Regions from separate parts of the Homo sapiens genome. Here region 1 is linked to region 2. Evidence: fine-mapped expression QTL. A gene starts in region 2. The other region holds a variant in brackets. All regions are shown on one strand. Distances are from middle to middle.

Region 1 (4,464 bases), 540 kb after region 2:
TTAAATAAGGTCATAAGGATGAGGTCTAGTCCTATAGGACTGCAGCTCTAGGAGAAGAGAAAAAGAGAGATCCCTCTCCCTTTCTCTGCCATGTGAGGACACAGTGAGATGGCAGCCACCTGCAAGCCGGGAAGAGAGCCTGACCGTGTTGGCACCCTGATCTCAGACTTCCAGCCTCCAGAACTGTGAAAAAATACATTTCTGTTTTTTGAGTTACCCAGTCTATGATATTTTGTTTCGGAGGCCCGAGCTGTGGTGCATATTTAACCTGTGGGCAGTGTGTTTTCAGAAAGTGGTGACATGGTGCACATGGCCCTGGTGGGAGTGGGTCTGTGGTCTCCTGTCCTTTGAGGAAGCTCCTTCTGTGACATCCAAGGTCCCAATGATCTGGGTCCTGCTACCTTCTTGGTCTCACCTGGTATCATCCCTCACTTCTTTCTCACATTGGTCTTCTTTCTTTTATCTCTCCAACTCTCTAAGCTCCATCCTGCCTTGGGGTTTTTGCACATGCTGTCCCCTCTGTAATGCATACCTTTGCAAGGCTCACTTTGGATTCAGAGGTCCCTTCCATAGAGAGCCCTCCCTGTCCTGGCTGTCTGGGACTTCTCTCATTTCCTTTGCCCTGTCTTATTCTCTTCCTGGCAGGCATCACTCTCTAAAATTAAATGGTTTACCTGTTTAATATCTGTTTTCCTCCCCTGAAATGTAAGCTCTGTGGGGACAGGGGCCTTGTCTACTTGTCTTGCTATATCCCTAGAGCTTACCAAGGACTGTCACATAATGGGGGCTCAACTCATGCTCAATGAATGAATGAGTGAATAAGCTGATCGGGGCAAAGCTCCCTGCCTGTGCATCGAGCACCTCTTGAACCAGACCCCAAACACTTGATTTCCAGCATCACACCTTGTCTCTCCTTACAACTAGAGACCAGCTGGTCCATCCAAAGGATTTCCAGTCAAAGGGTTCTATGGAGAGCATGGGGTCCACTACAGAGACCTAGGCTGGAGGAGGAGGTGAGTGAGTTGATCTTTGAATGTTCTTCTCTACCCTTTCAACTACAACAGCTCTGAATTTGTCTGTTTCCCATGTTGGGCGTACATGAAAAATCTTATGAAAGAAATGGCCCCACAGCCCAGAGAAAATGGAAAACCACAAATTGCATCCAAGTCTTCACATTACACTGAGGAATCTGAGGTCCAGAGACTTGCCACACACAGATGGCCAGAGGTGGGATGCTCTATCCCTAGTGGTGACGTGCTCAGGGATCAAGAAATTCCTGCTACGTGAGTAAAAAATAGTGGCTCGCTCAAATGCCGAAACTTGGCTTTCTTTCTCTGAGAACTGAGGACAGGGGAAAGGATTTATGATCACCACTGGTCTCTGTTAGTCCCAAACAAACTTCAGACTCCATAACCCCCATGAGTGGTCATTACACACTGCAAGAGACCAAAAGTGAGCTCTGGCGAAGCGCTCAGGAGAAGCCTATCCTGGCCGGACCAAAGAGCCACTGTGGGACATCACACATGGCCCAGGGAGTGGGATGGTTTCAGATGAGG[A/G]CAATTTCTTCTTAGACACAGAGCGGGGTAGCGTGGACCCCAACGCCCTAAGCATCTTGTTTATGGTAGAATCATAGACTTCCCTGACAAGGCCTGTTCACTGGCTGGCCTCTTTTAGAGCCACCATTTTTCCACCTTTGCTTCCCAACCCCCACCCGCCTCCCTTTCTTCCTCTAGTTCCATGGAGCATTTGCTGACTGGTAATTTTACCAACCATTGCTGCAAACCCAGAAGTTCATTTCGTCACTGGCAATCAGCTCCTGTCCTCAGGGAAACCTAATTAGGTACTACAGGATTTTTGATGTTGCTTCCATGGTAACCCCCGTAGTAATGGTGTACATGCAGAATATATGCTCCAGGGTGTTTAAATTTATATATGTATATATATATATATAAAATATAAAACATATATATAAATAATATATCTTAAGAAAATCTGTAATTTTTTCTTCTTGCTTTGTTTCTGTGTCGTTTTTTTAAATGATGGAAATTTTCCCGGAAGTTCTTCTCCCCACAGAGAGAGAACAGTACACAAAAAGGCTTTTTCCATTTTCTCTCCTTTAATTTAGAGAAATTCACAGTTGTGCAAGAGTGAAAGTTTTTCAGGTTGGTCAGAAAGTGTCTAAGCAGGAATACGCTCTCCTCCCTGATAGCTGAGAACATTTTAATGACAGATTTTGCTTAAATAAAAAATCAGAAAGGTCTCAAGTCTTTCAAAATAGAATGGGGGGAAAAACGAGTGAATCCAATGAATCGACTCTAAACTTATCCTAAAAAAAAAAAAAAAAAAAAAAAAAGAAAAAAAGAAAAAAGGCAAGCTTCCCTGCATGCCTACCCCTTTGCAGGAAATGTGGGGAGGCCTCGCAAGTCTGAAGCTCGGGCTGTGCCATGTGGCTGCTGGAGGCACTGGGTAGTGTCCTTGTCTCCTTGTCAAGGCAGCCTGTCCCAGGCCCTGCAGAGATTGCAGCTGAACGGCCCTGTCCTGAGGTGTCCAGATGGCCTTCAGCGTTGGCCTTGTGGTGAGCTGGTGATGACATCTTTGCTTGGCGAGACACTCTAACCAGGGAAAGGTCAGACCTGGACTCCCTGAGGTGCAGGTGACAAGGGAGAGGGCCTGTGACACACCCACAGCTGAAAGCCAAGGGCTTCTGAAGAATCCCTGAATAACTGAAAGTGCTTTCTGTACTATCCCTCGCTGGCCGTCCAAGGATGGAATGCCATGCTGACCTCTTTGTTAGCTGCCAGCGAATCCATTTACCCTCAGCATTTGCCAACAAGGTCCACTGCTCCCAGACTCCCTGCTGTTTTTCTCCAGCGGCCCCCCTGCCCATTAATTCTGTTGTGCCCTTGTTCCCTGATTCAGTCTACCAGCTGACTTCCTCACATCTGAGAAAACACTTTGTATGCAAAACAACTAAACTGCTTGCAAAATAACTTTTTAAATGCTCTGAGTTATTCTTTGATATCTCAAATCATGTGTCCATGGGGAGAGTGGGGATGGGGGAATGGCCATCAAGGAATGGCCCTTGACCCTGATCTCCTCCCCATCCAGTCACCCAGTTACTTGAGAAGGACTGGCCAGCAAATATAACTGAGTGGAGTGGGAAGGTGGGGACGGGTGAGGGTTCCTGCTAGGGGCTGTGGCATAAGAATCTAAAAGGAAAATGTTGGGCACAGTAGGCACATGACCTGGCTTTTCTAATATGTGCCAAATATAAGAATTAGTTTTGTTATATATTAGTTTTGTTGCATAACAAAGCACCTCAAAACATAATGGCTTAAAATAATAATTTAGGTCACGTTTCTGTGGGTCAGTCATTTGGGCTGGGCTCAGCTTGGTGGTTCTTCTGCTGGTCTCACCTTGGGTGAGCTTCTGTCATGCAGCTGGTCTAGGACGGCTTCTGATGGCTGGCAGCTGGTACTGGCTGCAGGCTGGGGTGAAAGGGATAGTGAGGCCATGTGTCTATAGTGAGCCTCATGGCGATGACATTTTTTAAACCTCTGCTGTATCACACTTTTTAATGTTCCACTGGCCAAAGCAAGGTACATGGCTAAGTTCAGACGGAAGGGATTGAGAAATAGGCTGTACTGGCCAGGCGTGGTGGCTCATACGTGTAATCCCAGCACTTTGGGAGGCCAAGGTGGGTGGATCACTGGAGGTCAGGAGTTCGAGACCAGCCTGGCCAACATGGTGAAACCCCATCTCTACTAAAAATACAAAAATTAGCCAAGTGTGGTTGTGGGTGCCTGTTATCCCAGTTACTCAGGAGGCTGAGGCAGGAGAATCGCTTGAACCCGGGAGGCAGATGGTGCCATTGCACTCCAGCCTGGGTGACAGGAGTGAAACTCTGTCTCAAAAAAAAAAAAAAAAAAAAAAAAAGAGACAGAGAGAGAGGGAGAGAGAAATAGGCTGTACTTCTTGATTGGAAGAGAGGCAAAGTCACATGTACAGAAGTAAGTGAATGGGATGGGAGGAATCTGTGGCCTTTTCTGCAAGCTGCCCCCTCTGGTGTGTCTGATGCATGCCTTCCGGGCGCTGCTGAAGCCCTATGTAACCCAAGAAGCTTTTCAAATTGCATCCTAATCATGCATGTCTTTTGCTAGAACTACTTGAGATTGTGCACTGATTCATGGGACATGTGTTTGATTCAGATTTATATACCCACAATGGCCTAACCTTGTTGATTCTTAATAATTATTATATTGAACTGAGTTGGGTTAGTTCTCCTTTTTCTCTAATTACAAGCTCCTTAAAGGAAAGTTTGGAATCACTGTTGCATAAAATCTCCCTCCCAGAGCTCTCAGAATTATACTAACGGCTGAAAATCCGGCAAGTTCTCAGAACCACCAGTTAAGTGGTAGAGGGATTAGGCCTAGAGCCACCTCTGGACAGAGCAACTATCTGAGG
Region 2 (4,000 bases):
CCAGTTTCCCTTTCCCGGAGCGCTCCCTGGTAGAAGGGGCGGGGAGGATGGGTGACACAGAATGGAGGGAAGACAGGGGGCCGGGTTGGAAGCCTAGGAGGCGTGAGCGGCCGAAGCCCAGCCCTCCTCCCGCTTCTTGCGACCTCTTACCCTCCAGGCCGGCCTGCGCGCCCGGCTCCTTCGCGGCTGGGGCCTCCTCGCCAGCCGCTGGGCTGACAGCCCGGCCCTCCTCGGACTGCCCCTCCGCTATGGGCTGCAGTCCAGGTCGGTTCTTCTTCCTTCGGGGAGGGACAGGCGGGGGTGGGGGCCGGGGCGGGACCAAAGCCCAGCCAACTGGGGGGTCTCGAGGCGGGACTGGCGGGGCTGGGGCCCGGCTTCGGGACCGGAGTTCCTTGAAGGTGGTGACTTCCCGAGGAGGTGCCGAGGAGCCGCCCGGCGACCCCGAGGGGGGGAGCTCGGTGTCGGGCGAGAAGACTATGAGCCAGTCACTGCGATCTTTCTTCGCCTGCGGGACAAGGGGCAGCCCTGGGCCCCGCTTGCGCTTCTGGGCCAGCTCGTGGAAGGACGTGATTGTCCGGTGGGGCACCGGCTCCTCGCTGACGTCACTTCTCCATCCTCCATCAATTTTCCCTGCATCTGTTTTCGAGCCAGAATCAGTTATTCTTGTGTTGGTTTTCCAACCAGAGTCGAATTTTTCAGGTTCACTTTTCCAGCTAGAGTTAACATTCCCGTTGTTTTTCCAACCAGTGTTATTGTTTTCAGTGGTTTTCCATTCAGCTTTAGTTTTCTCTGTGTCAATTTTCCAAATTGGGTTAATCTTCCAACTGGGCTCCGTTTTCCCAGCGTCGATTTTCCCATCATCCGCCTCTAAGAGCTCAGAGGTAGGGAGATCCTGCTCCGCCCTCTCGTCCTCTTCCTCCAAGCCTGGGGAAGGGACGTCCTGGCAGGTGGTCAGGGCGTTGCAGTTCGAGTCCAGGCCAGGATCGGGTGAAGAAGAAGCTCCGGAGCAGGAATCAGGAGAGCAGCAGAAGCTGTCCGGTGAGCAGGTGCCAGGGCCTGCTGAAGCCAGTGGGGAGCCCTGCTCCAGGGGGATGATACTGGGCTGAGGGTGGGCATCCTCATCACCAGGGAGGTCCCGCAAGTAGACTGAGACAGGGGACTCATCGGGGCTAAGATCTGAGCAGGAGCTGAGTGAGGAGGAGCAGCCTGGGTCTGAGGGAGAGGCAGCCCCCTCTTCCTCCTGTGACGGGTCCTGCCGGTTTTCTAGGCCCGGACCGTGCTCCTGGCAGCACCGGCAGGGCACAGCTGGGCTGTTGGAATTGGCGTCCACCAGGGTGCCACTGCAGGGGCCCCTGCTCTCCTTGCCCCCAGTGTCTCCTGGAGGAGGGGGTGTGCTCAAAGGCCCCTCCTGTAGCTCAGGACGGCGGGACAAGTGCAGGCCCAGGGAGACGTGCTGGAGGTGGATGTGGTTGAGGTTGCAGAGTAAAGCTCTCTGAGGGGACAGCATGATGCTAGCGGCGATGGGATGGCTTCTAGAGAACCAGAAGGGTAGGGTCTCTCACATCCACCTACCTGGCAACCACAGGTGCAGACCTAGAAGACAGAGGTGGTGAAGCCCGGCCAGTGAGGACAAGAGCTGCGGGGAAGGACACCGAGGTGACTTGACGGCAGCAGCAGGCCTGAAGGCTCTGGCTGCTTTGGAAGATATTTCAATGAGATGCAAATCGCAATCGACTGACCATTAGTTTCCACTGCAGTGTTTGCAGATGGAGTCGAATGTAACCCCCCGGGAATGGAGCCGGGAGGGTCAGAGAACGCGGCTGCGCTCTGGATCTCCGAAGGGGGGCGGGGGCCTGGAAGAGGTCCGGGCCCAGAATGGACCTCCAGGTCCCTGCTGCCGCAATCTGGCCCTGCCCTCCAGCCTACCCCTTACTCCCAGAGGAAGGGACCCAGGGAGACCCACCCAGATGCCCTGAAAGGAGGTGGAGGATGGGGGTGGGGCAATACGCAGAGTTTGTCTGGTGAATGCAGGAAAGGGGTGGGGGCTGGAGAGGAAAAGGATGGAGCAGCCGTCAGCTTGTCAACTCCGCATCTGCTGGCTGCCTCGGCCGGGCTCCAGCCTGCGCCCTCGCCCCTCGGAACAGCGGTATGTCCATTCTCTCCGCATTCGTCTCCATCGTTCAGCCACCACCGCACCCTTTCTCTATTCATTTCTCCTGCTCCCTTGTCCTGCCCCGCCCCTCGTGCCCAGGTCCATCGGTCTACACCCATGGGCCGAGCCCTCCTCACCAGGGTCCTCCTGGAACCGCTCCGGCCTTGGGCTTGTCCGCGGCTCCCACGGTCCCCGCCCGGCGGGGCACAGAGCGGGAGGGGAGGGGCACTAGCACAACCTACCCTGCGCTGCGCAGCTGCACCCCTTCGCGCATGGGCGTGGCGTAGCTCAGACCCGCCCCCAGCGTTTAGCGTCTTTTGTCACCCACCTAGAGGGTTTGATATATCCTAAGCTTTTGGCCCCTGGGTCCTGGTTCCGTGCAGCGAGTCCTCCCAGCACCCCACCCTGCACATTCTGGAAAGAGCCAGACTCTGGCTGGGCCGAGCAAGAACAGAACCACAAGAAGGTTACACGATTATTTATTGAGAGCCTCCTCTCCCCGCCCTTGCAATCTCTAGGTCACTTTCTCCGCTTGTAGATTTTGCGCGCAAGCCCCAGAAAGACGGCTGGGGGCAGGGGTGCTGCGTACTGTTCAATGAGAGCCATAATGTGGCTGTAACTGTCTTCCTCATATTGCAAGAACACTGCTGGCAGATCCAGCTCCTCATATAGCGCCTTCACCCGGGCCACTTTCTCAGCCTCCTTCTGCCCGTAATTTTCCTGGAAGAGGTTGAAAGACAGGAAAACGGGCTTGGCCTTCCCCAGAGCCTCCAGGACCCCTCCACTCCCCTCATTCACATATTCCAGAACATCTCCAAAGCCACCCACTCCTTTCCTCCCTCCAATTTTCAAGTGTCTCTACGTAGCTAAAATCCCAAGCTTCCCTTCCCTATCCCAAATATTGCCTCATACCAGGCATCCTCTACTCCAGGGTTTCTCCACCTTGGCACTATTGAAATTTGGGACCAGATAATCCTGTCTGGGGGAGCTGTTCTGTGTACTACATGTTTGGCAACATCTTTGGCTCCTGCCAACTAGATGTCTGTACCACATGCACACACACAGAGTTGTAATGACAATGGCAAAAAATGTCTGCTGACATTGCCAAATGTCCCCTCGGGAGGAAAACTGCCTCTAGTTGAGAACCACTGCTCTATCCCTTTCCACCAACTCAGGGACCCACCACCCTCTCTCAGGCACCTTCAGGATCTGGTACTGTTCTGGAGTGGCCCGTTGCAGACACTGAACCACCAGCCAGCTGCATTTGTTGTCCTGGATGTCAGTGCCAATTTTGCCGGTCACACTGGGGTCCCCAAAGAGGTCAAGGTAATCATCCTGGGCAGGGAGGGGGAGGGCAGCAAAAGAGGAAGGATGAGGTTCCTGGGCAGAGGAGGAGTGAAGCTGGTGCCTGTTCTCTGCTACTGCCTCCTGCCTTCTTACCTGAATCTGAAAGAACTCCCCCATCTCCAGCAGGATCTTCTTGGCATTGGCGTGCTCCTTCTCGCCATCAATTCCTGCCTGCAGGGAAAGGGGGGTTAATAAGCCAAACCCCAGGGGTGCCGGCATCTTCCTGGCTGCTTCCTCCCATGGGGTCTTGCCCTACTGCAGCCCCAAATCTTTCCTCTCTCTTCAGACATCTTGGCTTCCCTGACCTAGACAGTCCTGACTGATGGTCCAACCTCAATCCCACTTATTTTTGGCTAGGCCTTCCTGGGAGTCATAAAAGAGATGAATCCATTCTAGAGGTGCACAGCCTGTCTCTTCCCTCACAAATGTCAGTCCCCAAGTCATTCTGATCCACCTTCCTAATATTTTTGCCACCTCCAACTTCTTTCAAGATGAAAAGGA

Which allele goes with the higher level. Positions count from the first base shown, and alleles are read on the strand shown. Sizes are in standard deviations (SD) of each study's normalised expression.
For the expression in prefrontal cortex of the gene that starts at base 2,387 in region 2, allele G in region 1 goes with a lower level than allele A (moderate effect, 0.40 SD a copy in ROSMAP).

What was found. PIP is the estimated chance that this variant, and not a neighbour inherited with it, causes the effect. A credible set is the group of variants that fine-mapping cannot tell apart.
Region 1: its variant is the best candidate, but not a certain one, in a credible set for the expression of RUSC1 in prefrontal cortex (ROSMAP, PIP 0.89).

Annotation. Positions count from the first base shown.
Region 1 is chr1:154,778,084-154,782,547 of GRCh38, reverse strand. The region is part of intron 2 of KCNN3 (potassium calcium-activated channel subfamily N member 3); the gene reads left to right. Among named protein-coding and RNA genes, the nearest start is that of KCNN3, 90 kb to the left of the region's middle. The variant A/G (reference allele first, on the strand shown) is at 1,557.
Region 2 is chr1:155,319,281-155,323,280 of GRCh38, reverse strand. RUSC1 (RUN and SH3 domain containing 1) reads right to left here and starts at 2,387. Exons shown (of 10, transcript NM_001105203.2): 1 at 2,290-2,387; 2 at 151-1,593. The coding sequence starts at 1,507. FDPS (farnesyl diphosphate synthase) reads right to left here. Exons shown (of 11, transcript NM_002004.4): 9 at 3,593-3,670; 10 at 3,353-3,487; 11 at 2,616-2,872. The coding sequence ends at 2,672. It overlaps RUSC1-AS1 (RUSC1 antisense RNA 1), which reads left to right. Exons shown (of 6, transcript NR_145424.1): 2 at 844-1,038; 3 at 1,586-1,656; 4 at 3,349-3,478. RefSeq lists silencers at 76-315, 2,296-2,445 and an enhancer at 697-1,680.